Regions from separate parts of the Homo sapiens genome. Here region 2 is linked to region 1. The links come from fine-mapping of genetic effects on gene expression. Tissue or cell type: hippocampus. Region 1 holds a variant in brackets; the other region holds the start of a gene. All regions are shown on one strand. Distances are from middle to middle. Region 1 holds the start of CCDC13-AS1 (CCDC13 antisense RNA 1). Region 2 holds the start of HHATL (hedgehog acyltransferase like).

Region 1 (15,131 bases):
GGCAATATATGGACAGCAGTCCTTGGGAATATATAAAGTCCTTGGATTGAAAAAGAACACTAACTTCTGAGTAGATAAAATTACGTATAACATATTTACATATATTTACATATGTATACTTTACATATACATACATACAAATATACACACATATTTACATGTATATATAAAATATATATTTACATATATGTAAAGTCACACATATATACATATATACATATATGGGCATATTACATATATACATATGTGTGTGTGTATACGTATATGTATATACGTATCACAGTGAAATTTCAAAGCTTCAAAGACAAAGAGAATAATCTGAAGAAGCATCGGAGAGAAAGGACAAATCTATTAAGGAATGACAATAAAACTGATAGCAGATTTCTTTTTAGCAATAGTAGATGATAAAAAACAATAGGATAGCCTGAAAGTGCTGAGAAAAAAATACCCATCTATTTAGAATTCTATGCCCAAATTTCTCTTAAATTCTCATTCAAGACAGGCAAAATAAAGACATTTAAAAATAAACAGGCCAGGCGTGGTGGCTCATGCCCTTACTCCCAGCACTTTGGGAGGCTGAGGCAGGCAGATCACCTGAGGTCAGGAGTTCGAAATCAGCCTGGCCAACATGGTGAAACCCCATCTCTACTAAAAATACAAAAATTAGCTGGGCGTAGTGGCTCACACCTGTAGTCCCAGCTACTCGGGAGGCTGAGGCACTAGAACCACTTGAACCTGGGAGGCGGAGGTTGCAGTAAGCTGAGATCATGCCACTGCACGCCAGCCTGGGTGACAGAGAGAGACTCGGTCTCAAAAAAAGAAAAGAAAAATAAATAAATAAATAAATAAAATAAAAATAAACAAATACTCAGAGAGTTTACTATTTACATGGCCTCACTGAACTAAAGGGCATCTCAGTAAGAAGGAAAGTGAACCTAGAAGGAAGATTGAGATACAAGAAGTAACAGTGAGTGAAGACATTTTCAAACATGTTGGCAAAAGGAAACGAATATTCACTATTCAGTATTCAAGACTTACTTTGGAGGGTTTAATTTCAGGGTTTAAAAAAAGAATGTGGAAGAGAAATATTAGGAAACAGTAACATGAAAGGCACAAACGGAGAAATCAAAGTTAAAACATTCTAAATGTATTCTTTTGCTTAAAGTGATAGTAGCAAAACCAACTAACTTTAGATTGCTGAGTTTGATGTTAAAAGTTAAGGGTGACCACTAAAAGAACAGAGATAGAATATCTAACTTCCAAACTTGCAAAGAAGTAAGAGAAATAAAACTTGATCAGTCCAATATAAGGGAAGAAAGGAGAAAAAAAGGAACAAAGAAAAATCATGGCAAATAGAAAATATTAATTAAAGTGATTAAATATTACCAAAATCAAAGTGGATTAAACGATACTGTTCAAACACAGAAATTCCCAGATTAAATTTAAGAACAAAGCCGACTACGTGCTTTTTAAAAAAGAGACATATTTAGTGACTTTTGTCATGGTGGACTAACCAACTCCTATTGTAAGTAACTAGAAAAATTGATAAAATGTAAGAAAGAACTTGTTTTCAGACAATGGACAACAGGACGACACACACTGGATACAAGACTTGAGGAAAGGAAGGACTTGAGCTTGGCTCGCCCTTGGCCTTGGCTTTCTGCCTGAGGCACTTTCCACTGCAGGGTGGGGTGGGGGCAGCCACGCAGAGCACCCTGGGATGCTGGGATGAGCACACAGGATTAGGGAACTGGGTGGGGGAGGGCAACTGAGGCAGCTGGAAATTGTAGGGCAGAGTAGAGGAGAAGGGAAGCTAGGCAGAGAAAGACTCCCCCCCACCCTCCCCTGTGCAAGGCTGGGACAGACTCTGCAGATAAAGAAAGGAGTAGATATTGAGGATCTCTGAGAAACGAAGGTCCTGTACTTTGGGATAGTTAAAACATTAGTTAAAACGTTTAGTTTTACTTTAAAATAGTTCCTTTGGTTTAATTGGCCAATCATCAGTTTTGAAAGGAATCATCATTTTTGATGATTGGCCAATTTAGTTATAACAAAATGGTTTTAGTTTAAAACATTTAGTTTTAAACCAAATAGATTTGAGGGAATTTGAGTGCAGAAGGTACCTGGGTTCCCTTTTCTTGTTACAGCCCAGGGACTTAGCAATAACCTCAAGGAAAAAAGGCAACAGGTGTTGGTTGATGGGCCTGGCACAGCCTCACAGAGCCCCAACACCCCAGGATGACACAGAGTAGCAGGAGGAACCCAAGGACCCAAAAAGGGCCAGCATATTCGCAGACAGAGAGTTGCATGTATGTGACTGGGTGTGAGCACCTCTTTACATTTCATACCCCAGGTGCCCTGCTTGCCTCACCCAATCCTAGCCCTGTGTGGAGAGGCCCTGAAAATGAGATCTCACATGGAGACAGAAGCCACATGAAGGAGAACTGAGGCATCCCTGCTGAAGTGCCAGCTGCATGAGACCAGTGAGTGACCCCAGCTGACATTATGTGGGGTAGAATTACCCAGCCAAGCCACAGAATCGTGAGAAAGCACAAACCATTGTGTTTGAAGCCACTAGGTTTGGGATGGTTTGTTATGCAGCAATAGCTAACTGAGTCACCTTTTTCACACACCCCCAAACTCGGATGTAACTCAAGAGAAATGAGAGAGAAAGCCTGCATTGAGTATGTTTCTACTACTTGATAGACTAAAGACTTGTACTATCCATTACATTCCAATTATAGAAAAAGAATCAATGTTGCTTTTCTCATATACTTGAGTATGTCTGAAATTCACATCATCTCTATGTACTATGTGAAAGCAAAGCTGACCACTCACTATTTAGGTAGCAGGCATCCTTTGTTTTGTCCTTCCCTGCACCCCTAGCTCCTTCTTTTGCTATCAGTACCCCCATTTTCCCTTTGGCAAACTACCTTTCCTGCATTCTGTGAGCACCCGGAGGAACTTCAGTCAGAGTGCCCTCACATGTGGGGTGGATACGGGCGCAGCACTGGCCAGTTCAACCTTCTCTCCCAGAACCCATGGGCACAAGAGCTAAAAGCCATTTGGCCATGCCATTTCAGTGGCCCAGGGAACTGCCTAGGGTTTCCTGCTACCAAAGATGCCTGCACCTTCTCAGGCTCCTCTCCTGCTCTCTGCATTGGAGTCTGCCAGTACCTTCCAAAAATCTGCCTTTCACTGAATTCAGCCAGAATTGCTTTCTATTGTCTGTCATCAAAGAGCCTTGACTGATACATGATATAGCCTGTTAGGGCAGAAACTCAGTGGTGTGCTTAATATTTTTCAGTGTGGAGGTCACATGGTTGAGCCATGTGTTGGCCTGGACACCTGCAATTCTTGCCAAAAGGATCATTTGAGCGAGGAGCACTGATTTATCTGAACGGAAGTCTGTCAACAACCCTTTAGAGAAAACCATACCTCCTGGTCCAGTGCCTCAGGCCTCGTGCTTCCCTCCCTGCCTCCCCAGCTATCAGCACCTCTCTTGTTCTTTCCAATTCCAGATGTCAGTCTAGCTTGTGTTTTCTTCCCACCAAACCCTCCAGCAGCACCAAGCACAGTGCCAGGCTCATCACAGATTTTAATTATTGATGGATTGATTTGACTGATTTACTTCTGGGTGTCTCTCCCCCGAGACTCCCAGCAATGTCCACATGCCATACAACAGTCCCATTGGGTGCATGTAGAATGGGGCTGTTCCTAAGGGCAAAACACAGTGTGACGACAAGGCCCCAAGGTTGTGGGGCGCATGAGTTGTGGCTAGGAATGCCCTGGACCAACACTGGGAGCCGAGCTCTCAGGTGAGGAGGACCCAGTCATAAATGAGGCCTGGCCCCAGTCCCCACCACATGCAGGCCTATGGGAGAGATCCCTGGGTGCCATGTGTTACCGTTTCTGCAGGACAGTGACAAACTCGGTGAGCCGGTCACGCTCCACCTCGGCAGCCTGCCAGAGGGCCTTGATCTCTGACACTTGTGCCTGCCAGCCTTTTTGTTCTGGGGAGTCCGAGAACCTGGGACCAGGGTGGAGGGCAGAGGGCAGAGGTCATCCGAGGCCTAGAAATAACACTTACCCCTGTGATGGTTGGAGGGACTAGAAGGACATTCAGGGCGAATGTCAGCCAGAGCAAAGGAAGCAAACCCAGTCCCTCTAGGTCCTCCCCTGCTGGCTTCTTTGCCCACCATTCCTGGTCCTGCTGAAGTCCCTAGGCTCCAAAGCTGAACCTACCAGAACTAGAGTTACACTGGTACCTCTGTCCATCCAAGCCCTGTGGGGGCCTGGAATTAGTCTGGTGCTGTGGCAGGTGGCTCTTGGGGACCTGGGGTGCCCTGGGTATCTGTGTGGCCTTTGGGGCCTGGCTGCCCTACCCAGTGTCAGGTGTGCCCAGTCTCTGTGTCCCTGCCAGTCTCTCCCAGCCCTCCTGCATCTTCTGGCTTGGTCCCCAAGCCCAGCCCACTTTCCTGGAGCCTGTGCATTTGGCTTTGTGACTTGTTCAATTTTCTCCAGCCCTAAGCCAACCCATCACTGCTTCCCTCTTACCTGCTGGCTGGAGCCAGGACAGAAGGTAAACTCTGCCCCCCAACTTCAACCCCCCAGAGCCCACATGTGAGTTCCAAGCTGCTCTCCGCTGTGCCCCCACTTTTCCCAGTGAGACCCTGAGCTTACTTTTCTAGCAGTACAGGGCATAGGGAAGGCTGCAGAGCTGGGCAGTGTACTGAAAACTGGGCTGGGGCATGTGATCCTGAGGGCTGACTTCTCGGTGGTCTTGGGCAGGTCTCTTCCTCTCTCTTGGCCCCAGTTCCCCCACTAAACATTGAGAGGGGTGGTTTAGATGGGCTCCGAGAACTGCAGACCCCTCTGTGACTCCTAAATATGCTCTAAGGCCTTGCTACTACAAGTGGTCTCTGAATCGGTGGCTCTGGCATCTCCTAGCAGCTTGTTAGAAATGCAGAATCCCAGGCTTTACCCCAGACCTGCTGAATCAGAACCCACACTTGACCTGGCTGATCAGCAGGGGCTCTGTGTGTGCACTGCAGTTTGGAAAGCCCCATTCATTTCCCCAGTTCTAGAATGTGGGAAGAGGAGGAGCAGGAGCAAAGGGCCGATTCTTCACTCTGCCCTCCTCCCAGGCACCCCACCAGAGTCACCTGAAGGGAATGGGTTCAAACCATGCCAGCCCGAATAGACATACTCTCTGGGATCACTCTGCCCTGTGAATTCCTGTCCTGTCACCTGTGGGAGGGGACTGTAAGCTCCATGAGGGTAGGGCCCACACATGGTCGAGTTTAGTAAGTATTTGTGTGTTGTGGAAGAAACAAGCCTGACAACCAGCAGTCTGGGCAGCCAAGGCACAGAGCAGCTCCTGTATTTCTGTGTGGCACAGAGGTCACAGCCACACAGGCCTGGAAGGGGCTCGAAGGGGTCATCTTGTCCATCTTCCTGCTCTCTTTACTGTGACTAAAACCTCAGAGAGGCAGAGCCTCCCCAATCTCCCTGTGCTGTGACAAGACCTCCCACCCTAAGGAGCGTGGCACATGCCTTGTGGCTCAGTGTCAGCCCACTCTCCCCAAGTGCCTTTATGACCCCAGCCTGATGGGTGGGGCAGCTTTGGCCCACAGACCCTATGCTGCCAAGTGTCAGCAGCATGCTGTCCCCCACTTTTCGGGGATAGCAGCCCAGAGAAGGACCAGTTTGCCTGGAGCCACAGAGATGAGGGACTGGGGCCACTTGGAGGCTTTGCCTGGAACCTGAGCTGACCTGCCTGAGGGGTCAGGGTGGGGAGTGTTGACAGCAGGAGCATGGCTCCAGTGGACAGTGGGCAGGGCTCGGGACAGGGCTTAGAGGCAGGACAACGCTGTCCTTTGTCTATGGGCTGGCAGTAGGAACAAAGGGCCCATTTACACCCTCTGGCTTGATTCTGTCAACAAAGAGGGGGCCCAAGGTCTGAGGGGATATCAGTGGGAACCCATATCATGTGAAATTCTCCCCTTAGAGGCTGATTCTCAATGAGCAAGAGAAGATGAGGGAAGGTGCTAGAAGCCAGGCCCAGGAAGGTTCCTCAGGTTAATTCTCACGTAGCAGGTAGGAACCCTAGCCTGGGAGTCAGAGGCCAAGATTCTAGTTCTGAAGCTGCTTACTCTATCATCTTGGACAGGACTTCCCTGATCCTCCCTGTCTTTATGTAACCTTGGAAGAGTCCCTGGACTTTGCCTGGCCTCAGTTTCCCCTCCTTTTAATGGGATGGCAATACTGGTTGAGCAATCAAGAATGGGAAAAAACTGTGAGAGTCCGGGGGTCGGGGGTCCATACCTAGGTGAGGTCCTGTGGGGACTGGGCAGGGAAGGCCTCGTGAGAGCAGATTCCACCAGTGTGTGGCCCAGGCTGGTCACAGAGCTGTGTAAAGGCGGAAGGGGCCCATCAGCCTGGGAAGGCAGACCAGGCCCTACTGGGCCTCACCTCTGCATGTGAGGTGGAGCAGTGGCCAGCAGGGGTCCAGGAAACCCTTGCAGCAGTCCTGTGGATTTGCTGCCCTTCTTTCCAGAACTCTTGTTTGCTCAAAATGAGACAGAACAGGAGACACCAGAGCCTTGAACAACCCAACACGGGTCTGTTTGAAGGCCCCAGGGGCAGAAAACTTTTGAGGCCAGCTCAGAAAGGCTCTTACAGAGAGCTGCAACCAGCATGCTCTTGAAGTGATAAAATCTGGGCCTAACCGGCTCATTTCTGCAGACGCAGAGCTAATGTCATAGGAGAGGCCCACGTATTGGAAGAACAACAGCATAGTCATCTTAAAATTGCACCTGTGGCTTCCCATCAGAGGTAGCAAGAAACAACCTTTCTTCCGAATAATTAATGTTCACTTTCCAACCCCTCCCTCCCATTGTTTTCTTACCGAGAAGATCCAAGCCTGCCAACATGATCGCCTGCTGAGGCCGGGGACTTGGTCAGGCCTGGGTCCTCCAGGAACTGGGTATAGGCAGGGCTGACCTCGCGGCCACTGGACCCCTCACCCACTCCTTTATTCCGAAGATACTGTAGGAACAGATGTGGGTTCCATCCTCAGGGCTTTGGCTCAGAGGCCTAGAGAAGGCAGGAGGGGATCTTGGCTTGATTTCGGGGCTTTCAGAGGATATGAAAGAGGCTTCTTTTCAGGAGTGAAAAGCGAGGCCTGTTTGGTGAAGGCACTACTTGCATGATAATGACATCTAATAATGCCTCTCTTCAGAAAGAAAGCTACATGGTGTGAGGACGGTGACTGGGCCAGGAAGCTGTTCTACATTCAGGTTCCAGAGGGAGGTGCACGGCCCTGCATGCGGGGCAGGTCAGAGACTGACGTCTCTGAGTGGGTCCGCTTCTCCAGGCGGCCCCACCCACATGTGGTTGAACACCAGGTGTGACTTGAGGCCAGCTGCCTTCCTCAGCTGGAACACCTGGACCTTCCAGACACCTGCAGCCAGAGAGGCTGGCAGGGACTCAGTGAGGGCAGGCAGCCTTGGGTGGAGGCTAAGCCTGCCAGGCCCCCACCCCTCCCTCAACCCCTTCCTCTTCTGGATACCTGCTGGGGCTGGACTGGACAGGAACATTAGAGGACCCCCAGCAGGAGGTCAGGCCACCAGAGTGGACAACCGGTGTAAGCCCCTAACAACCTGGCTTGTCCCCCAGCCCCACCCATTTTGAGAAAACTCGAAACGTGTGCCGACTTAAGTCTGGTGGGTAATGCTTGGCCCCCATTCAGCTGGTGACCTCGGAGGTAGGAACAGTCTTCTCCTGTGTGCCTGGAGAAAGGACAGTGGTGAGGTGAAGATGCTGGAATCTTCCCCTTCAGACTTCCCTCCCCAGTGAGCCAGGATGGGGAGCAGGGTGAGTCCCCATTCACTGCCGTATGTGCTCTGTTCCCAGACTTCCTTGTGCCCCCAGGCTCCCCTTCAGCCTCACAGCACTATGTCACAGCCAGTCCTGGGGCCCCAGGCTACCCTGGCCTGTGGGAATAGAGGCTACAGGACAAACCAGGCTGGTCAGCCAATGCCAGACTGAGGCAGGGCCGAGGGGCTCTTGGGCTCTCACCTCTGAACAAACCACGGATCCCCAGAAACAAAGAGCAGGGCTGCTTTGCAACATGCCTTTGGCTGAGCCAGTCAATTTCCCAGTGGGCCAGAGGCTGCAAGGCTCCTTTGTCACTGGGAGACCTGCATGCCTGTCAAGAAATTCTCCCCAAGGACACCACCCAGCCCCACCACCACCCCAGGGAGGTGAAGGTGCCTGACTCCTAGCAGCCCCAAGCTGTGCCCTCAAGGCACCTGCCAAGACAAAATATCTTTACAAGCTCATGCCTTAGACAAGCATTTATTGAGCATCTACTGTGTGCTTGCTCCAGTGCCAGGCACTGAGGCACCACGGTCTGTGCTCCCTTACAGAGAGTGCAGGGGAGAAAACAGGAAAATGACTACACAG[C/T]GTGAGAGAAGTTTGGTTTGGGGATGCATAGGGAGTTAGGAGAGTGCCTAGGAGGGGAACACAACACAGAACAGGGGTCCTGGGGCTTCCTGGAGGAGCTCCTGACTAGGTAAGACCTAAAGGCTGAGGGGCAGCCGGCCAGACCGAGGCCGTGGGGGAGGAGGGGAGGGAGTGTGCTTCACGCTGCGCGTAGCCCTGGAGTGCGGAGCAAGCAGGAGCTGAATGGTGCCTGGGTAGCAGAGTGTAGGGAAAGGGGAGGGGTGAAGAGAAGATGCAGGAGGGGTGGCAGCAAGAGTTAGTCACATGGTGCCTAGAAGCTGAATGAAGTGTGGCTTTCCTTCTCTCATCCTGCTGCTGGAGCTACTGCCACCATCTTGAATCCTGAGGATAAGGCCACAGCTGGGGATGGGAGAGGGTAAACTGGAAGGTGCCTGGGTCCTTGAGAACCAGGTGAGGTCGAGGGTGACAGTAAGCCATGAACAGATTTTAAGTAGAGCAAGGACACAATCAGGTTTGTGTGCAGAATGGGTTGGGGAGCCAGATAGAAGCAGGTGGCCAAAGTGGAGCCAGGAAGGATGAAGTCTGGCCTGAGCTAAGGCAAGTGGAAAGAAGTGGAAGGAGCTGGATGGACTTGCCCGGCTTGAAAATGGGTTTGGGCGCTGCCAGTGCCCTACTCACGTGCACATTGAGTTGTCCGATCTCCATCTCCAGCTGTCGCACTTTGGCCTCCCGCTCAGCTACCATGGCCTGCAGCTGGGCGACTAGGCTGTTGCTCCGCTGAGCCTCGCTGTTCAGTTGCTGGTCCAGGTGGTGCTGGGACACTCGCGTTTTCTCCTCCTGCAGACTCAGGCTGCCTAGGATCTCCTGTAGCTGCTTCAGCTGGTCCTGGGGGGCCAGGCAGGAGGGCAGGTGGAGTCAGTCATGGCCCTTTGGGCCGGGGAGGACAAGAACAGACTGCCTCCCTCACCCCAAAGCAGGCTGCAGGAACCTAACAGTGGGATCCTGTTCCCTCGAGAGGCAGGAACACCTTCCTTGCCTGCCATCAGGGGATGTTGAATCAGGCAGGTGGGGACCATGTTCTTTTCCTGTCCTCAACTTCCTTCTCTGAGTTTGGGGCCAAGAAGATCCAAGGGGCTCTCAGACAACAGAAAGTAGATCAGATGGTGACTCCTCACCCGGTGGGGGAGATATTTAGCTAAAAGAAAAGCCTGATCCTGCTTGGCTGGGAGACTGCCCTTGGAGGCAGTACCTGGACCCCTGCCAGGGATCCATTAGCACCTGACTGAAGCCTCATCCCAAGGAAAAGCCCTCAAGGAGACTCCTGGGCAAAGGCTTCCTGCCTAGGGCCAACAGAAAGGACAATGTCAGTGATTTGGAACAGGTGGGGGCTGTTGTCTTCACCTCAGAGTGGAGGAAACTGAGGCCCAGAGAGTCCAAGGGCATATTGCTGGTGAATAGCATGACTGGGACTAGTTTGCAGCTCTCATCATGCCACTTTCAATGACAAAGAATGGTGACATGCAGGGACCTCAGAGGACATCCAGCCCTGCGACTTATTTTTAAAACTGGCTGCTGAGCCTCAGAGGGGATGCGACTGGCCTATGGTCACACAGTGAGATACTGACAGAGGCAGGCCTAGATTTCTGGTCTTCTGTGCCCCGCTCACCACCCTATCATGTAAAGTGATCATGAACTAAGGTAGGTGCCTGAGCCAGCACCCCCCAAACACCCCAGCCAAGCCAGACATGATCACCCGCCCCGGGCCTGCAGGCACAACTTGGAATCTGACACCAAACTTTGGTGCCTCGGGTCCCACAGAGAAAAGTCCAAGCTGTAGGGTTAGGAAAGCAGTATGGCCTTACTAATCAAGGAAGTTTTTGTTTTTGTTGTTGTTGTTGTTTTATACATAAGTTGTAGGGTACATGTGCACAACGTGCAGGTTTGATACATAGGTATACATATGCCATGTTGGTTTGCTGCACCCATCAACTCATCATTTACATTAGGTATTTCTCCTAATGCTATCCCTCCCCCAGCCCCCCACCCACCGACAGGCCCTGGTGTGTGATGTTCCCCGCCCTGTGTCCAAGTGATCTCATTGTTCAATTCCCACCTATGAGTGAGAACATGCGGTGTTTGGTTTTCTGTCCTTGTGATAGTTTGCTGAGAATGATGGTTTCCAGCTTCATCCATATCCCTGCAAAGGACATGAACTCATCCTTTTTTATGGCTGCATATTATTCCATGGTGTACATGTGCCACATTTTCTTAATCCAGTCTATTACTGATGGACATTTGGGTTGGTTCCAAGTCTTTGCTATTGTGGATAGTGCCGCAGTAAACATACGTGTGCATGCGTCTTTATAGTAGCATGATTTATAATCCTTTGGGTATATACCCAGTAATGGGATTGCTGGATCAAATGGTATTTCTAGTTCTAGATCCTTGAGGAATCGCCACACTGTCTTCCACAATGGTTGAACTAATTCACAGTCCCACCAACAGTGTAAAAGCATTCCTATTTCTCCACATCCTCTCCAGCACCTGTTGTTTCCTGACTTTTTAATGATTGCCCTTCTAACTGGTGTGAGATGGTATCTCATTGTGGTTTTGATTTGCATTTCTCTGATGGCCAGTGATGATGAGCATTTTTTCAAGTGTCTGTTGGCTGCACAGATGTCTTCTTTTGAGAAGCGTCTGTTCATATCCTTCGCCCACTTTTTGATGGGGTTGTTTTTTTCTTGTAAATTTGTTTGAGTTCTTTGTAGATTCTGGATATTAGCCCTTTGTCAGATGGGTAGATTGCAAAAATTTTATCCCATTCTTTAGGTTGCCTGTTCACTCTGATGGTAGTTTCTTTTGCCATGCAGAAGCTCTTTAGTTTAATTAGATCCCATTTGTCTATTTTGGCTTTTGCTGCCATTGCTTTTGGTGTTTTAGTCATGAAGTCCTTGCCCATGCCTATGTCCTGAATGGTATTTCCTAGCTTTTCTTCTAGGGTTTTTATGGTCTTAGGTCTAACATTTAAATCTTTAATCCATCTTGAATTAATTTTTGTATAAGGTGTAAGGAAGGGATCCAGTTTCAGCTTTCTACATATGGCTAGCCAGTTTTCCCAGCACCACTTATTAAATAGGGAATCCTTCCCCCATTTCTTGTTTTTGTCAGGTTTGTCAAAGATCAGATGGTTGTAGATGTGTGGTGTTATTTCTGAGGCCTCTGTTCTGTTCCATTGGTCTATATATCTGTTTTGGTACCAGTACCATGCTGTTTTGGTTACTGTAGCCTTGTAGTATAGTTTGAAGTCAGGTACTATGATCCCTCCAGCTTTGTTCTTTTTGCTTAGGATTGTCTTGGCAATGTGGGCTCTTTTTTGATTCCATATGAACTTTAAAGTAGTTTTTTCCAATTCTGTGAAGAAAGTCATTGGTAGCTTGATGGGGATGGCACTGAATCTATAAATTACTTTGGGCAGTATGGCCATTTTCATGATATTGACTCTTCCTACCCATGAGCATGGAATATTCTTCCATTTGTTTGTGTCCTCTTTTATTTCATTGAGCAGTGGTTTGTAGTTCTTCTTGAAGAGGTTCTTCACATCCCTTTTAAGTTGGATTCCTAGGTATTTTATTCTCTTTGAAGCAGTTGTGAATGGGAGTTCACTCATGATTTGACTCTCTGTTTGTCTGTTACTGGTGTATAGGAATGCTTGGGATTTTTGCACATTGATTTTGTATCCTGAGACTCCTGAAGTTGCTTATCAGCTTAAGGAGATTTTGGGCTGAGATGATGGGGTTTTCTAAATATACAATCATGTCATCTGCAAACAGGAACAATTTGACTTCCTCATTTCCTATTTGAATACCCTTTATTTCTTTCTCTTGCCTGATCGCCCTGGCCAGAACTTCCAACACTATGTTGAATAGGAGTGGTGAGAGAGGGCATCCTTGTCCTGTGCTGGTTTTCAAAGGGAATGCTTCCAGTTTTTGCCCATTCAGTATGATATTGGCTGTGGGTTTGTCATAAATAGCTCTTATTATTTTGAGATACGTTTAATCCAGGAAGTTTTTATAGTCAGATAAACCTGCTTTGAACTCAGTTGTATGGTCTTAGATGAGTTATCTAATGAATTTGAGTCTTAGTTTCCCCATCTGTGAAGTGGGATTAAAATATATGATCCTAGAAGTTATCTTAGGGACTAAGCATTATAACATGCCCAGAAGAGGAAGGGTTCTGTGCCACTGCAGAGATAAGAACTGGTACTGGCTCCTCTTGTCCCTTTCATTCCTTGCTGAAAAATAACCCAGGGTATAATCCCACCTCCTTCCCCCAATACATTTCTGTCTCTTTTGGGGTCCATAGGCCCAGTGCCTTGTGCCTGGTGCTGCTCCATCACAGCCCCCTACCTGCCCTCAGGCAGCCTCCCTGAGCTGCTCCTGTCCCTGGGGCAGGGCTTTGGTACTGGGGGCCATCTGGAGGCAACGGGCTTTGGGGTTACACAGGTGGCATTGAGGGGTGAGTGAGGGCTCACTCTGGCCATGGCTGGGGCCCATCCTTTGAGGAACCACCCCTGGCTCTCGCCCTGCCTGAGTGGTGGGGCCATACCATGAGGGCGTCGATGAGCTCGTCATCATGCCGGCCCTTCTCCACCAGGGTTCCCATCTGACTCTTGAGGGTCTTCATCTCACTTGACAGCAGCTTGTTCCGAGACCTCATGCCCTCGAACTTCTTTTTTAGCTCTTCAAGCTCTCTCTGGAGGACATCCCGTTCACTGGCAAGTTTCTGTAATTAGAAAGTGAGGGCATGGGCAGCAGGGCTGTGTGGGACCTTGGCCACATCTGCTCCCTGGCTCCTACTCAATGGCAAGGCCCGGGGCTGGGGGTGGGGGTGCTTGTTGAATGCCACAGAGCAAGTCACTAGAGCCAGGGCCCTGACTCCCAGCCCAGGCCTCTCAGGGATATCAGGTGGCCAGCAGCCTCCCACCCTTCCCCTAGCACATGACAGCACTAACCCATGACAGCACTCCTAACCTCAGCCTGAGACACAGACTTCCTAGCACATGAGAGGAAAGCCGCCAGCCAACTGCGTGTGTCCTCCAGAGAGCACAGCCAGTCCTACCCCTAAGCCCCTCCCCAAGCAGGGGAAAAGAGAAAAGCCATACTTTAGAAAAAGAGTGCTGGGCTAGGTTCCAACTGCAGCACCTTGCACCACCAGGAGCTAGAATGAGAAAGGAGGGTCTTTTCTCCCACTTCCTCCATGATTATTTGGCACAACCCCTGACAGCACCTTGCTTTGTCAGCTACCAACTGGAAACTCACATGCAGCACACATCTTCGGAGTCTCTCATTCAATCATCCCTTCATTCTCGAGGGTTTCCTGAGGGCCTACTATGGGTTTCCTGAGGTTTCCTACTATGGTTTCCTGAGGGCCTACTATGGGCTTAGTATTGTTATAGATGCTGGGGGACAGCAAAAAGCAAAACAGTCCTTGTCCTCAAGGAGCTGATAATCCTAATGGAGGAGACAGATAATGTCAAATAGTGACAAATGCTAATTTGAAAGTAGGAAACAGGAATAGCGAGAAGGATATGGTCAGGTAAGGCCTTTCTGAAAAGGTGGCATCTGAGCAGAGACTGAAGGAGATGAAGGGAAGAGCAAAGGCCCTGGGGTAGAAGGTGTGTGGCTGGAGCACAGTGAGTGAAGGGGCAGAGGTTAGATTAGGCAAACCCATAAAGACAAGATGGAGACATTGGGGAGGAGCTTGGGCAGTGGGTGACATCACCTGCTTGATCCTGAGGGTGAATTGTTGCTGGAAAAGTATTTTCATATCCTTGATGAAGTGAATTATAGAAATGCAAAACAAGTAAAACATGAATCTATAGGACACAAGCCCTTTGCAGGGAGGCAGCCATTACTCACCTGTTGCTCTCCTGCCTACACACTCCAGGCTCTTATGGGTGCCTGCCAGAGGGAATGCATGCAGGAAGCTGTTTCCTTCCACCCGCTATTGCAGCTTATGGTCAGCCCAACTGTTCAACATAATCTGTTCTGCACTAACATGTAAGTTCAAGCTAGGTGCATTTCAAACCCAGCATTTCCAAATCTCAACTCCCTTTCTCTTCTTGAACCCACCCTGTCTCCCTTACCCACCCACTATACTCCCTAGAAGTCCTTTATAACTCTTCCTCCTCATCTCTCTTCCAAGTCCAATCAGTCCTTGAGCCCTAGAAAGTCTGTCCTCACTGTCCCAGGTGTCTGGCCCTTCCATGACAGTCCACTATCTTGGCAAAGATCTTTGGTCATGTCTCCAGGATTACTATTCTGCCTTCCATTCCTCTTCCAACCCATTCCTCCTCTTGCTCCAACCATGTGACCTTTCCAAAATGCACAGCTGACCACCTCCCTCCACAAATTAAAACCCTGTCGTGGGCTCGGCGAATGGCTCACACCTGTAATCCCAGCACTTTGTGAGGCCGAGGCAGGTGGATCACCTGACGTTAGGAATTTGAGACCAGCCTGACCAACACAGTGAAACCCTGTCTCTACTAAATATATAAAAATTAGCCGGGCATGGTGGCAGGTGCCTGTAATCCCAGCTACTTGGGAGGCTGAGGCAGGAGAATCACTTGAACCCCGGAGGCGGAGGTTGCAGTAAGCCAAGAT
Region 2 (15,131 bases), 34 kb before region 1:
GCCCATCCCTCTACCCGCTCCCTCCTACTCCGGCTTCTCTTTGTCCTGCTTCTGCTCCTCCTCCAGTGCCAAGGTTCGCTCACGCTCCTTTACCAGCTGGACGCCACAGTAGGTGACAAACAGGATGGACAGCGTGGTCTGGGGGAACCCTGTGTGGGGAGGGAGTCATAGATGCTCAGGAGCAGCACTGCATCCTCAGCGACTTTTGTCTTCCCACCCCTCTCCCCGCTTGATGGGCCCTCCCTTCTGAGTCCCAGGGGTGATGAGGGAGATAGGAGGCATTTTGGAAGGTCACGGTCCTTGAGGCTGATGCCTGGCACCTTCTGTATCCCCACACCCCTGTCCCTCACCTGTGAGTAGCAGGCGCCGGGCAACCAGCTCTGTGAATTTGAGGCTGTTCAGGCTCACAAGGTTGTACATGATGATGGCCCAGAAGTTCATGGCTCCAAACAGGGCCCGGACCCTACGGGACATCTGCACTGACAGAGAGGCCTATCCGGTCCAGGAAAGCATGGGCAGCGGGACAAGAGGCCAAAGGAAAGAGGACATGGTGGGTCAGCAGCCTTACCCACCTGGCCAGTCAGGTCTTGGGGCTATGTCTGGGTCTCGGAGAGCCCCAGGTCAGCTCTCCCTCCTTGTTAAACATGGGGAAACAGGTCCAGAGAGAGGACAAGGCCTGACCAACATGGCAAGGCCCAGGTGCTCCATTCCTCATAGAAGGGAGGGAGGGGCAGATTCCTACAGAGTGAGCCATTGCTCTGACAACTAAGAGGGTGGTGGTGAGAAAGTTCTGGATTAGGGGCCAGGTGTTTGGACAACTCCAGAAAGCAGCAGTGCCCCCCCGCCCTCTATGACCCAGCCAGTCCCAGCCCCAGGTCTTCCCTGCTCACCTCAATTCGTGCTAGGGGCCCCCACTCTGCCAGTTTTTGCATCCAGAGCTCAAAGTTGAGGCCAAAGCAGTTAAGGAATGACCACAGGTAGACAATGTCACAAGGCCCAAGCCACAGTGTGGTGATGGCAAATGTGGCCACTGTGGCTGCCAGCTCTGGGATCACAGCGGAATGCTCCCCACCAATGTGGTTATACACATATCTGCAGGAAAGATGGGAGAAGGGCCACTGGGAGTGTGGGAAAGGGCAGGGATGAGATGGGAGAGGACACACAACAGGGCGTCCTCCTCAACACTGTCACCCTGGGTGCATTCAACATTCCTGACCTCACGTAGCAGCTCCTCCTCCAACCAACTTCAAATTGTGGCAGGCTCAGCCTGGGACATTATAGCTTCTCTATCTCTGTTCGTTTACTTCCCAAATGATCTCATCCAGACCCAAGATTTCAAGTACTAGCTCTATGACGATGACCCCTAAATCTGTGTCTTTAGCCCAGTCTCTCCTGATTTGTATATGCAATTGCTACTAGCCATGTCACTTGATTGACAGATTCCCCTATCCCTGCTCAAACCCAGCTCCGTCCTCATCTCAGTGAATGGCACCACCATCCATTCAGTTGCTCAGGGTATAAGCCTTGGTGCCATCTTGGATTCTCAGTTTGCCTCATCACCCACATCCAAGCAAGCCAGCAAATTCTGTTGGCTCCTCTCAGTCCTGACCACCACTCACCTCCTCTACCACCACCACCCTAGTCAAGATGATCACTCTTCTCACATAAATTATTGCAAGAGCCTCTTAAGTGGTCTTCTTGTTTCTGCTTTTGCCCCCATGGTTCATTCTCCACACAGCAGCCAGAGGCATCTTTTAAGAGTGTAGCTCAGGTCACATCACTTCCATGATTAACCTCTCTGAATAGCTCCCCATTACAATAGGAATAAACTCAGTCTCTTTACTCTGGCTAGAAGATCCCAAGTGGTCTGGTTTCTGTTCCCTTCCTGACCAAATCAGCCACCATGCTCCCCCAGTTCATCATGCTGGCCTCACTGGCCTTTCTTACCTTTACACCCACACAGTTGGTTTGTGTCTCAAGGCCTTTGCCCTTGTTGTTCCCTCTACCTGGTATTCTCTGCTCCACATCTCCTTATCACTCAAATCTCAATTCAAATATCATCTCCTCAGAGAAGCCTGCCTAGACCCCGACTAAAGAAGCTTCTACCCTGTTGTCAACTTCTATCCCATTGCAATTTTATTTTCTTCATAACACTTACCACTCTCTAAAATTATCTTATTTATGTTTGTTTACCTGTTTATGGTCTGTTTCTCCCCACTAGACTGTAAGCTCCATGAGTTCAGGGTCTTTGCCATGTTCACTGCTGTATCCCCAGTGCCTAGAACAATGCCTGGCACATAGGTGCTCAATAAATATTTGTTAAATAAGTTCTGTGGAAGACCCAGGAATAACCAGCCTCTCCATTCCTCGACCTCCTCATTTCCAATGGCTTTTTCTCCACTCCACCTCAGCCACCCACACCCATGGCCATGCCCCAACTTTGTCACCACTTGAAAGTTCACTCCTTTCTAATTCCCATTCTTTGCCCAACTCCTCTTGACCTCCTGGCCCCCCAGCTTCAGTTCTTCAATCCCATTGATCTTGTGACCCTCCCACCTTCACCACCGTCCTTAGCAGGCTTATATCCAATGAGTCATGACTATAAATAATCTAAAAACCCTTATTCCTGACTTCTTCCTTGTCATCCATCTGGGAGAGCCCAATCACTTACTTTCTCCTCAGCTACACCCAGGCAGCTAAGCCCCATGGGGGAAATCTCACATCTTCACATGCTGGAGTTCATAAGCCCACCACCTCCAATACCACCTGGGTACTCAGTGCCAAGATTTCTCTAGTCAGCTGCTTCTCCCTTGCTCTGCAAGGGCCACTGTATTCTTATCTCCCCACAAGTATGAGTGGAGAGATAGTATGAGTGGGGGGATCCAGGCTGGGTTGTGGGGGTAAGCATATATGTTGCCTCTCTCCACGTCCCTGTCCTGGCTTTCTCAGCTGATGGCCGTGCCTCCTGCTTCATGGACAAGGCTGAAGCCTTCAGGTGGAATCCCTTACTTGTCTACATTAACCTGCTTTCCTCTGCATCCACACTGGCTTCTCTTCCTCCTCCTCCCACTGAAGCCAGGCCTCCGCCTGGAACTAGACACCCTCACCTCCTTCCTCTTCAGGGACCTCACTCCATCAATCACCCCTGTATCCTGCATCCCCAGCTTCTCTGTTGAATAATTCTTCTTAGCATGTCCCATTCTCTCCTATCTTTAACACATCCCTCTTCTCCCTCAGCCACTCCTGTCTTCCCCCTGCAGTCCCAGGCTTCTTCCAGGAGTCATCACACACTTCTCTACTCCTCAGTTGACTTTCCCTCCTTACCTGCTCCTGCCTTGCCCATGAAAGGCTGAAAACCTCCATGTCACCAGCACTAATCCTCGGTCTCCAGCTTCCTTGAGGCTCAGTGGCATCTGACCAAGCTGTCCCCACCATGCCTGGATGGTCTTCCCTTGGCTTCCAGGGTGGCACATGACCTTGATTCTTCTCCTGCCCCTCCAACTACTCTTTCCAGTCCTTTCTGCTGGCTCCTTTTCCTTCCAAGCAGAGCTCTTGCAGGCTGAATCTCGGCCATCCCCGTCTCTCCTCTTCTCACACCACTCCCTCTCCTGAGGACTTACCCACTCCCAAAGCCTAAAAACCACCTGCCCACACTCAGGACGCTCTGAGTTCCATCAGTCCTCTGGACCCTCAGAAACCCAGACCCTCAGACCCAACCACCTCCCTGAACCTCCACAGGGATGTCTCCTAGATTGCGACTATACATTTCTTAAACTGAAGCCCTCTCTGGAAACTGCCCTCCATCCTCCCAGGCTGCAGACAGCAATTTGAGCGTCATCTCCTTCTCCTTCCCAACACCCACAGTTCATGGCCACGTCCTGTTCAGGCTGCTGACTGTGTGACCCTCCTCCCACCACCTCTCTCCACCTCGAGGGCCCTCACTTAAATCCTAACTTCTATATCTTTCACCCAGACCTCTGCCAATACCTCCTCACTGCCCTCTTTGCTTCCCCTGGCCCAGGGGTGATCTTTTAAAATGTGGACCCATCTTGGCACTGCCCTGCTCAGACACCTGGCAGGATGGCTGTGACCACCCCCACCCCACTCCTACTCACTTGCAAAGCCAGTCGTTGATGCCACGGTCAAAGTGCCTGTAAGAGGAAAGCAGATGGGCATGTTGCCATCAGGCGCAGAGCTCCCCAGGCATGGGGGAAGAGGCTAGGGGAAGGTGTGGTCCCAGGGGGTGAGCCTCCCCCGTCCTGGCCAGCACTCACGTTTCCGCAAAGACGTAGAGTGCGGTGATGCACTTGGGAGGCTGGGGTGGGTCCAGGTGGTCGAGGCATGCCACAGTGTTGACAACACCAAAGAGGACGGCCGCCTTCACCCAGTCATACACCAGGTTTGAATAGGCTAGGCCAGCTGGGGGCAGGGCACTGTCACTGCCTGGGGTCCAATCGCCTGGGGCCTGCCCCCATGAAGACCCTGTCCCACCACTTCCTTGGGGAGACACCAGGCTCTGCCCGCCCCACGGAGACCCCCCCATATTGTGGAAATCAGTCATGCCTGGTGAAGTGGGTGGGGTCCGTGGGATGCTGCTCTGGCCCCACAGGATGAAGCTAATGCCAAGACCCATGCATTAGAAAGAATAAGCCCCTGCTCCCACGCCCTCAGGTGCTGTGCCCTGCGTGCCTCAGCTCCCCTGACTGTGGCACCGTGGGGGTGCAGAGGGTCTGTTTTCCTGGGGCGGCAGCCCTGCCCCCATTTCTCTTCTGTGGACCCACCGAGGGCACTGTCTGGGAGGCGGTTGGCGAACTTGAGGTCGCTGGGGATAGTGAGGATGTAGAAGAAGTGAAAGAAGATGTCGACGGCCATGATGGCCACCACGCTTAGGCCTGCCTGGGCTCGGATGTGCCACAGCTCACCCTCGCGTCTCACTGGCTCCACCTGGCTCACCTGGGGGGATGCGAAGGGTCTGAGGGAAGAGGCAAGCCCTGCCTGGGGAGCCCTGTCTGAGGGGGGCTCACCAACTACTTGGGGCAGGAGGAGCCATGGCTTTATCCAGGAGTCCTGCCTGAGGGTGGAGACAGAGGTCACCCTGGAGTCTGAGGAGGATTCACAGCCAGCCATGGGAGACCCAGTTCTGTCCTGGGAGCCCCATTTGAGTGGGAAGGGAACATTCGTGGCCTGGGAGTCCTGTCTGAGAAAAGAGACATGTCTCCACCCTGGGGTCCCTGCTGGAGGGGAAAGGTGGCCCCATCCTGGGGTCTGAGGAGGGAGGGGAGACACGGCTTCATCCTGGAATCATGCCTGAGGATGGGGATACAGCCTGCTTGGGGAATTCTATCTGAGATGGAAACCCCAATCTGAAAAGGGAGATTCAGCCCTGTTCTAGAAGCCCACAGGGTGTCCCCTCACCTGAGCATGGAAGCGATCAAAGGTCATGATGGGCCCGAAGAAGAAGAAGGGCAGGTAGAAGTTGTACTTGAGCAGGTCAGCTAAGGAGTAGTGGCGGTCAGGGTGGGCACAGCTCTCCAGTGCAAAGCTGGTGCAACGCAGCACTGTGAAGCTGCTGCCCCCATGAAACAGCACCTCTTGAAGATCAAAAGTGCCTGTTACAAACCCGCTCTGGAGGGGGAAAGAACAGGCCACCAGCTCACTAGGGTGCCTCCTGTCTCTGGAAAACCTATTCCCCACTCCCTAGCTTCCCACAGGGGCCCAGCCTGGTCCTGTCCCTTCCTCTCTTCCAGAGCCAGTTAACTTTGGCCACTGCTCTATCCCAGCAATGCGAGGAGCAGGGGATGATCTGGATAGTTCCTCCTGTGATGCAGGTGCTCACCTTGTGGCCAGGACATACCCAAAGGCTTGAAGACAGGTGGAAAGTGAAGGGAATACTTGGGGATACTTGGGGTGCAAGGACTTTGGATGAAGTGAGAGGTTTGGGATCTTATCCCTACACCCTCTACCCCTGCACCAGTTCACACCTGCCAAGAGATTAGGGGGTCCATCTTGAAGGAGGCCAGGCTGGCCAAGCCAAGGCCAAGACAGAGCCAGGGCTGGCCCAAAAGCGAGGCCACATAGAGGCCCACACAGTGACCAAGCAGCAGCAGCAGGTACCAAGGGCCCATTGTGCCCATCACAGCCAAGGCCCCGTACACAGCATACATCCAGGAGCGGAGCTGTGGGCAGGGAGAAGGCTTCAGTTTCGCCATATAAATGGGGGCGTGACCCCAGGAGGGGGTTCCCACAACCCTTGTGGTGAAAGAGGAGCTGGCAGGGAGAGGCTGGGTGGCCCAGGTCCAGCTCACCTTTGGGGCAACCATCGTGCAGAGTTTAGCAAACAGCACATGTCCGGAGAGGGCAAAGATGATGACGTTGCGAAAGGAGGTGAACCACATCACCCACTCGAAGTCAGCCACATCCTGGGGCAGTCCGGGGCAGAAGGAGGTGGGGCAGGTGAGGGTGGGAGAGGGGACAGGACGAGCTGGAACCTGGGCTGGTCAGAGCCCCAGCACCTTTCCCAGCCTTCATGTTCTTCTTTTATTATTATCATTTTTAAATTTAATAATAATAATTATTTTTTACCACTAGCCAAACCCAACGTGTCCTCTTTATGCAAACACAAGAGCAGTGCCTGCAGGTCTCCACACTCCTCTGTGAAGGAAGTACCGAGGCAGGAGGGTAGAGAGGAGTGAAGGGCACCATGGGGGCTGCCGGGTCGCTTGAAGCTCCCCCTCTCCTCCGCACGTTGCCTGCCATTCCCCCTTTACTGCTTTGTTTCTGGGAAGGAGGTGCTGGAGGCTCCACTGAAGCACACTCCACTAATGCGACCTATTTCCCAAGTGAGCAGGGCCCGGGCAAACTTGATGTCCCAGGAGGATACAGGAGGGGCCAGTAAAGAAGCTGAAGGCACTGAAGCTCAAGCCAGAGGCCCCAGAGCTGTGAGAAGCTCTCTGTTACTTGCCAACATCTGGAACAGCAGAGAGCAGAGAAGGGTTCGGGATGGGAGGGACCCTGGGATGTGGGGGACCTACCATCTTCCGGCCAATGTACTCCCAGCCAGGTCGCACAGACTCCCGGAAGGCCTTCCTGTGGGCCCCATCTGAGAACAGAGTGTGGCCTCAGGGAGAGGGGCCTTCACATCCCCTGCCCCACCTTCCCCCGTGGACAAGGCTGCCCCACCCTGGGGAGCGAGGGCATCAGGAACGGGGCACGGGTCTGAGTCTCTTTGGTGCTGCATCTGCTTCTTTCTGGGTCTCGCTGTGTGTCTGGGTCCAGGACTCTGTGTGTGTGTGTGTGTGTTGGGGTGTGTGTGTATATGTCTGTGTGTTTGTGTGTGTGTCGGGGTCCAGGTCTCTGTGTGTGTGTGTGTGTGTCGGGATGTGTGTGTGTGTATGTCTGGGTCTAGGTCTCTGTGTGTGTGTGTCTGGGTCCAGGACTCTGTGTGTGTGTGTGTGTGTGTGTGTGTTGGGGTGTGTGTGTATATGTCTGTGTGTTTGTGTGTGTGTCTGCATCCAGGTCTCTCTCTGTGTGTGTGTGTCTGGGTCCAGGTCTCTGTGTGTGTATGTGTGTGTGTGTGTGTTGGGGGGTGTGTGTATATGTCTGTGTGTTTGTGTGTGTGTCTGGGTCTAGGTCTCTGTGTGTGTGTGTGTGTGTCGGGATGTGTGTGTGTGTATGTCTGGGTCTAGGTCTCTGTGTGTGTGTGTCTGGGTCCAGGCCTCTGTGTGTGTGTGTGTGTGTGTCTATGTGTGTGACTCTGTGTCCATCTCTCTGTCAGTGTCTCTGCATCTCTGTGTTCCTGTGACTGAACCTGGCTCCACCCAGCCTCCAGTGACTATCTGAGATGGGAACCCCGGGCTGAAAAGGGAGATCCAGCCGTGTTCTAGAAGGAGTACCCTAGGTCTGGAGCCTGTAACTTTCTGGCTTTGCTGGTTGGAACCCTGAGGCCTCCAGGGGAAGAAGGGTCCTGTCCACCTGCCCCGGGGCACAGCCATTACCTTGTGAAGCCTCAAGGAGGCCCCGGCCAGCATAGGCCAGGGCCCCACTCAGCACCAGAGAGTAGAGGCCCAGCTCAGCCGCCGGCAATGCTGTCTTGATGCCCATAGCCTGGACAGGGCTGGGGAGACAGGTTGGGTGAGGGAATTACAGTCTCCAGCCAAGCCTAGCCCCACCTCATGGTCCCACCACCCCAGTGGGGACCCACTCTGAAGAGAGATTGCCCCTCCAGCCCCTTGGGGACCTTGTACCATCACTCTGCCTGCCCCTGTGCCCCCCACAGTTCACAGGCCACCGAACACCAGTGCCCCATCCCAGCTGCTGCTCTTGCCCCCACCCCACCCATCAAGGCTCTTGCCCGCAGAGCCCTCACTCGCAGCCTGCCTCCCTCACCTTCATTTACATCTTCATACCTTCCAGAGGCACCGGCCCCACCCTCTGCCAAAACCGCTCCTGCCAAGGCCCCCATGACCTGCGTGCGGAGAAACCCCACCTCTATCACTACAGTCAGGTTTCTGCCTGCAGGGTCCCCACCTCGATCAGTGAGTCTCCCTTAGCTCCTCACAAAGCCCCAGCTTCTCTAAGACCCTTTCTCTGACTCCCACTCCCCTCCCTGAGATCCCATGACCACCCCAGGTGCTGCCCCTAGAGCCAAGCCTCCATCCTCGCATTAAGCCTCCAGCCTGTCACTGACCCCCATTCCCCCAACAAGTCCCTGAGCTCCAGCCTGTCACATCCCAGTCCCTGCCTGTGTCCGTGACCACACTGCCCCACTCTCTCAGCGCTCTGTGTATTCAGGCCCTGGGCACCAGCTGGAGGCTGTGCTATTTGAGGAGGTGCCCAGGAGTAGCGGATGTGGGGCCAGGCGGGGCCAGGCGGGGCCAGGGAGGGCACTGGCTGCTGTCCAAGGTGCTGACCAGAATCAGGCCCCGGCTGAGTCTCACCACTCCCTCCAGCGGGGGCCTAGCTTGTCCCCTGGAGAACTGCTGGGCCGTACTACGGCTCAGCTAGCACCTTTACCCTTCCTATCCCGCTTCAGCCTGGCTCAGGGGCTTCCCAAGGACTCCATGGATACAGACATAGGACCCAAATTAAAGGGAGGAAGCAGGGAACATGTCCAGGCAACTCTTGGGCTGACGGGGCCAAGAGGTGGCTGATGTGGCCCTTTTGCCCACCCTTGATCCTCCCCTAAATCTTCATCCCCAGCCCTGTAGCCATCTCCCCTGGGCCCCCCAGCAGCCGACGGTCTCCTCGTACAGATGGAGGGGTCATGGGCCAGATAGGGGCAGGGACCTGTCAAGGTCACATGGCAGACCTGGGACAGACTTCTGCCTGCCTCCCTTCAGGATTGGGTTTCTCAGTGACCCCCCTCTGGAATCTGGGGTAAGAGAAGACCACCACTGCCCCTGCCCACAGCAGAGGCTGCCAGCCTGATGGCTGTGCTGTCGGCCTGAGGGTGGAGGCACCTCCTCATCAGTTGGGTGGGGGTGGAGAGGCCCTGGGGATCAGGTTAATGGAGCAGGAGCTTGAAACCGGAGCATGGTGAAGAGCCCGTGAAATAGCTTTGTCAGCTGCCTCCCACTCGCCACTTTCCAATTTTAGCTCCCCATGGCCGGTGCGGGGTGTCCCCAGTGAGGCCTCTGCAAGGAGCTGGCCCCCAGCCTGGGGCCTCTCCTGATAGACCCCCAGACCAGGGCTGGCCTGTGGACACGGGGGCATACCCTTTCCCCTGGTCCTGCCTGCCCCAGATGCCCCGGGGGTAAAGCCCCTTTTGGGGCCTGTGATTTGGGATGAGGGCCTGGGGTGTGCCCCACAAGTCTCAAGAGCCCCAGAGTAGCTGCATCCCCAGCTGGCACTGACCTTGAGGAGGCCGCAAGGGACCCTGGCACACTGCCCACCTCAGGCTCTGGGGTCCGGCTTCCAACTGTCCGTCCGTGCGACCGGCTGAGCTCTGGGGCCACGGTGGGGTGTGTCCAGCCCTGGGGTCCCCACCCCCTTGAGGTTATGAGCGGTGAGTGGTGACAGCGGGAGGAGGAGGGGGAGGAGGAGGTGGCCTTCCTGGAGCGGAGCTGAGCAGAGTGGAGCAGAGCCGAGTGCTGCAGAGCTGCTGGCCACAGGGAGCCGCAGGGAGGATCCTTGAAGGGGGGCGGGTGCTGGGTGGGGGGAGGGTGTCCAGTAGCATAGGCTCAGACAGGGACACCTGGGCCTCTCTTCAGCCTGCCTCCCCTGGCTCCTAGAGAGCCTGTGCCTCTCTCTCACTGCTACCCAGGACTTCCCTCTTCCAGGAAGACTCCTGGTGGTCCCACCAGCCTCTCCAGGCTTGTAAGCCCTGCCCCCACCACAGACACACACAGTCACAACATGCAAACACTTTCATGCTTGGGCTCCAGGGACTCCAGCTCCTACCTTTACATATGACCTCCTAAGGGCTATCCCAGGGCAGACTTGTCTCGCCCCATGACCTGGTCCTTTTCATTATGCCGTGAGTCCTGGCTGGCCATGCATCAGTGCCTGAGGGAGGGCTGACTTGCCTGATGGGACTGGAACTGGCATGGGACATGTGGCTGAGAGGGATCCCCATAAGTCAGCCCTGTCCCATAGGGAGTGTCCTGGATGGAGGGGTGCTAGCAGGGTCACTTGGCAAGGCTTGTGGGTACTTGGAATGGCTGGTATCCTCTCGGTGGCAGAGTGGAGGCAGACAGGAAGACAGGTGTGTTCCTAACCAACTGGGAGTCCTGGTAGGACAGGGCCCTCATTCTGGAAGGGAGCATCCAAGGCCTCAGCCCTGGATACCTGAGGGGAGGGGCATCCTGAAGGTGCCCCTGAGATTAAGAACCTCTGACAGTGCCCCTTCGGTTGAGGCCAAGTCTCGGGCAGCTGTATGTGTCTGTGCTATCTAGGGGGACCTGTTCACCTGTGTGCTTGTGGGGAGGCTCTCGGGGGTAGAAGGAGCTTTGTGGCTGTGATCAGTCACAGGACAGCTCCTGGAGCCCCTGCTGATCCTATGACCCCAGCTTCAGGCTCAGTTGAGGAGGCAGGAGGGAGGTGCTGCTCCCCACCCATCAGGGCCCAGGAAGGGGAGAGACTGCACTTAGGCAGGGAGCTGCCTCCCGAGCACATAGACACGCTGGCCTGGAGAACAGCAAGGAGACGCCCAACCTACACACTCCACACAGGACACAGAGGCCCGTGTCTGTGGTCCCCGACCCTGAGAAGCATGAATGGTGACTACTGCACAGTGTGGGTGCTGGGTTAGAGCTGTGGTGGGTAATGGGCACTAGAGAGGCCAGCATCAGGAAGGGAAGGATACCTGAGCCAGACTTCAGGGTTAAGGAGGGCTTCCTCAGGGAGGGGTAGTCAAAGGTTGTTAGGAGTAAGTTAATCATAGTAGCCAGGATGTACATGGATTAACTTTTTAATGTCACCACAGCCCATAGGGAAGATGTTGCCACTGTACGCAGTTGGGAGAAGAAGGACCTGGCACATGAGGAAGCCAAGTAGTTGGATCAGCCCTGTAAGCTCCTGGCACTGACTGCCCTGCAGGGGCGACAACCCCGTGCACCCACACTGGGGCCCTCACGAGGCTCCAAGAAAATGGCTCAAGGGAGCAGACAGGGTGGTTTGACCCCAGAGTTAAGAACACAGGTTCAGCCAATTTACTTGACCCTGAGCTGGTGTGACCCACTTCTTAGGGCCTCAGATCCTCAGTTGTAAAATGGGCATACCGCTGGCCCTGGCCCTCACTGGGGTGGCAGGGGGCATCCGGTGATTCACTCCATGACAAGAGCCTTGCTCATAAACAGAGGCTATTAGAGAGCCACAGACACCCTGACCCCCAGAGGCCCAGAAAGGCTGGATTCACACTCAGAAGTGAGGCCTTCCCTGGGTGACCCACACACAGCAGGGTCTGCAGGGAGTGTGGTGTGCGGAAATGGCAAGAGGGGTGGAGGGCTAGGGAAGTCCCATGGATCTGTGGTTGGACAGCCTGAGGCCAGCTCCACTGTGTCTGAGGGGGGTGGCAGGGGAGGGCACCTGGCAAGGCCAGCCCACGTGAGGGACAGGAAGCTGACTGAGCTAAGACCAGCACTTGGCCCTGGGGCCAGCTTCCCAAATGCCACAAGGGCCACTAGGAAAGATATGGTGGGGAGTGGGGACAATTCTCTCAAATCTGAGTCCCTTTTCAATTTTCAGACTTTTTTTGTTTGGTTGTTGCTCAAAGTAAAAATGCGAGGAAAGTATCCTGTGTGTTTGCATGTACGTGTGCAACTGTGTTTTGTATCAGTTGTGTGTGGGTCTGTGTGTACGTTTTGTGTTGTAGGTTGTTCATGGCATGTGTTTGCTGTGTATGTGTATCCTGTGTATTGTGTGTGCACATGTATCGTACATACGTGTGTATATGTGTGTTGTGTGTGTGCAAGGCTCACAGATATAGGAGAGTCAGTGTACGTAAAGGCACACCTGTGGGGAGAAGGTGGGCAGGCCGACTTCTTTGTGCTCAGGGCTGGCTGTGGGCTGGCTGGGGGTGGGGAGGAGAAGCTTGTTCTGGCCCCTGGGTGTGGGGGTGCAGAGGAGCACACCCACTGGAGGTCACCCTGCCCTGGGCTCCTGGGAGCAGGGGAGGGGCCCAGTGACAATGTAGTGTGTTTAAGCCTGAGCCAGGCTGCAACCTTGCCCAGCTCAGCTGTGGTGCCCCAGAGGCCCCTGTGGGGACAGTGGCCAAACTACGTCCACAGCTCAGCCAGGTCTCACCTGTCAGTGCTGGAACCTGAGCACCAAGACCTGCAGCACCTGCCTGGGGTGTGGCAGGGAGAGCCCTCACTTGAGGCAACTTCACCACTTAACTCTTTACTTGCCCCTGCCCCTCAACCCGCCAGGGCACCTGCACCCTCCCCTCCAACTACCTCCTCGTGGATCTGGCCAGGGCCCTTGGTGTCTTATCCAGCACACCTGTTGCCCACCTGCCTGAGGGACAGGGAGGTCATCCTCAGGGTGCCCAGGACAGATGGTGCTACCCAGGAGAGGCACTGGTACTAACCTGGACAGACCAGCTGCCTGGCTGTGCACCTGGCCCACCTAAGTTAGGTTTCTCAGGGTCCCTATCTTTGACCCCTTTGATGACCTCCTTCCCTTGAAAATCCTTCTCCCAGGCTCTCCCCACCTTCCCTTTACTCCTCCTTGCTCCTTTGCCTCAGGGAGATGTGAAGCCCCCTCTCTACCCAGATCTGATCAAGGAGGTTGGGAACTTGGGAACTGCCACAGGGATGGGGTGGGGATGGTGGGGGAAGCCCTGTGGTGCTGCAGCCCGGTCCTGCATCCTTCCCCACCCAGCTCCATCATGGCGTTTCCCACACCTCTGATTGGACTGGAAACTCCCTGAAAGGAGGAAGCAAGTCAGATTCACCTCTAGGTCCCTCCCAGGCCTGGAGAGGCTGGCATGCTGTTGGCACTCACTGACTGCCTGGTGGCCGACTGGCTGGATGGAATGGTGACCTGTGACCAGTCTGTCTCTCTCCTCAGCTGATCTGAGAGTTCCTGGAGGCCAGGGACTGTGTTTGCCTCACCTCGGCACCTCTGTGCCTGGGGCAGAGGAACTGCTCAACAAGTTCTGGTTGAACAAATGGAGGGAACACTAAGAGCGAATAATTATTAAGCGCTTACTGTGTGCGAGCAGCTGCTGTAAGCAATGGACACTTTATCTCAGTGAACCCTGCAGAGGGTTCCAATGAGGGAATGGAGCAGACCTGATCTAACCAAGCTAGGGGTGGGGAGGTGCCCGGTGGTAGGTGCCAGCAGACATGACAGGCACTCCCGCACATGGCACCACAGCAATGCTGTCAAGGTTGCCCGTGGAATCTGAAAGCTGAAACACTCATCTTTATATACAGAGTTGGCCAAAGCAAGACACCAGCAAATCAGTTTACCCAAAAATGTGCAAACAAGATTTCCTGTGCCTGCCTGTCTGCAGTTTTTCTTTCCCCTCTCTCTTATATAACTCTTGTTGAAATCAGTCTATAGATACATGTTCCTTGTACAGAAATAAACAGAGAGCTAATAATTAGTGAAACGTCTTTGGGTTATTCTTTGACATACATATTAATAACAGCCCCCTGAGGGAGGATTCTATTATTGTCTGCATTTTATAGATGAGAATGTGGAGGATCAGAGAGGTTAAATAACTTGCCCAAGGCCACACAGCTGGTAAGTGGGGAGAGAAGTATGCCCCAGGCAGCCCCACCTGTCCAGACTCCATGACCTAATGCTCCTTCCTTTCTCAGGCATAGCCCAGGAAGGGCAGCAGAACCACCCTGAAGTGGCTGGAGTGTGGGTCACACCATCTCTGCACTTCCCTGAGGTGATCTTGAGGAAGGATGGCTGATCCTATGCCTGCTTCTCACTCCCTGGGACTGCACTGAGGCCAGAGCCTGTACCCCTCATACTCAGATCACCCTCTGGAGCTCCTCAGGGCCTGCAGGAGAAGGTGCTGACTCCTCTGTGTTCAGACTCTACATCCAGCCCACCCCTCGCTGTCACACACTGTCCCCTCCAAGCACAGACCCTCTCTCTCCTGGCTCTCTGCCTGGCCGTTTTCCTTCACAAGGAACCAGAGAAAAACTCTTCCTTCCCAGAGACCCTTAGGACCCCACCAGAATCATCAGTTCATCCCGGTGGCCTTTGCTCTAACTTGCTGTGGGATCTCTAGATCCGTGTGACCCCATGCAGGGTCAGGGGCTCCCTGAGGAGTGGGGGCCAGCTAGGGTCCCTCCATAGCCCCATCCCCAAGGAAGGGGCTGAGAAGACAGGGTCCCAGGAGCCGCAGTGGCTTTTCCAAGGAAGGAGCTGACAAGATGCTCGCAGGAGCCCCAGTGGCTTTTCCTGGGGAAGGGGGTGTTTTCACAGTATGTGCACCTGCATTTGTGCATCACTGCACAAGCAACACACAAGTGGCTATGTCTTCACGTGTGGGAATGTGTGTCCACATCCACATGTGTGTGCTCATCTGCACCTGTGTGTCCATGAGTGTGCACACATGGAGGTGCCTGTGTGCACGTACAGTTGCATGCTCCTGAATTGAGGTATGTGTGTGCATCTGCATCTTTGTGTGGGGCTGTGGGTGCACCTGTGTGGCCAGGGTGTCGGAG

Evidence for each region. PIP is the estimated chance that this variant, and not a neighbour inherited with it, causes the effect. A credible set is the group of variants that fine-mapping cannot tell apart.
Region 2: it holds the start of HHATL, and the variant in region 1 is the best candidate, but not a certain one, in a credible set for the expression of HHATL in hippocampus (GTEx, PIP 0.50).

The regions. Positions count from the first base shown.
Region 1 is chr3:42,726,560-42,741,690 of GRCh38, forward strand. It overlaps CCDC13 (coiled-coil domain containing 13), which reads right to left. Exons shown (of 16, transcript NM_144719.4): 9 at 13,075-13,251; 10 at 9,148-9,354; 11 at 6,911-7,050; 12 at 6,328-6,411; 13 at 3,908-4,030. CCDC13-AS1 (CCDC13 antisense RNA 1) reads left to right here and starts at 6,016. Exons shown (of 4, transcript NR_046732.1): 1 at 6,016-6,099; 2 at 14,416-14,528. RefSeq lists enhancers at 3,886-4,385, 5,738-6,032, 6,562-7,247, 7,248-7,931, 9,304-9,989 and a silencer at 5,738-6,032. The variant C/T (reference allele first, on the strand shown) is at 8,470.
Region 2 is chr3:42,692,727-42,707,857 of GRCh38, forward strand. It overlaps HHATL (hedgehog acyltransferase like), which reads right to left and starts at 10,072. Exons shown (of 12, transcript NM_020707.4): 1 at 9,853-10,072; 2 at 7,995-8,113; 3 at 7,032-7,099; 4 at 6,306-6,419; 5 at 5,982-6,176; 6 at 5,416-5,625; 7 at 4,782-4,953; 8 at 4,275-4,419; 9 at 4,116-4,151; 10 at 891-1,092; 11 at 351-492; 12 at 1-149. The coding sequence starts at 8,100. The coding sequence ends at 25. CCDC13 (coiled-coil domain containing 13) reads right to left here. Exons shown (of 16, transcript NM_144719.4): 16 at 13,030-15,131. It overlaps HHATL-AS1 (HHATL antisense RNA 1), which reads left to right and starts at 9,815. Exons shown (of 3, transcript NR_146957.1): 1 at 9,815-10,003; 2 at 11,423-11,506; 3 at 13,321-14,039. RefSeq lists an enhancer at 3,698-4,300 and a silencer at 8,788-8,857.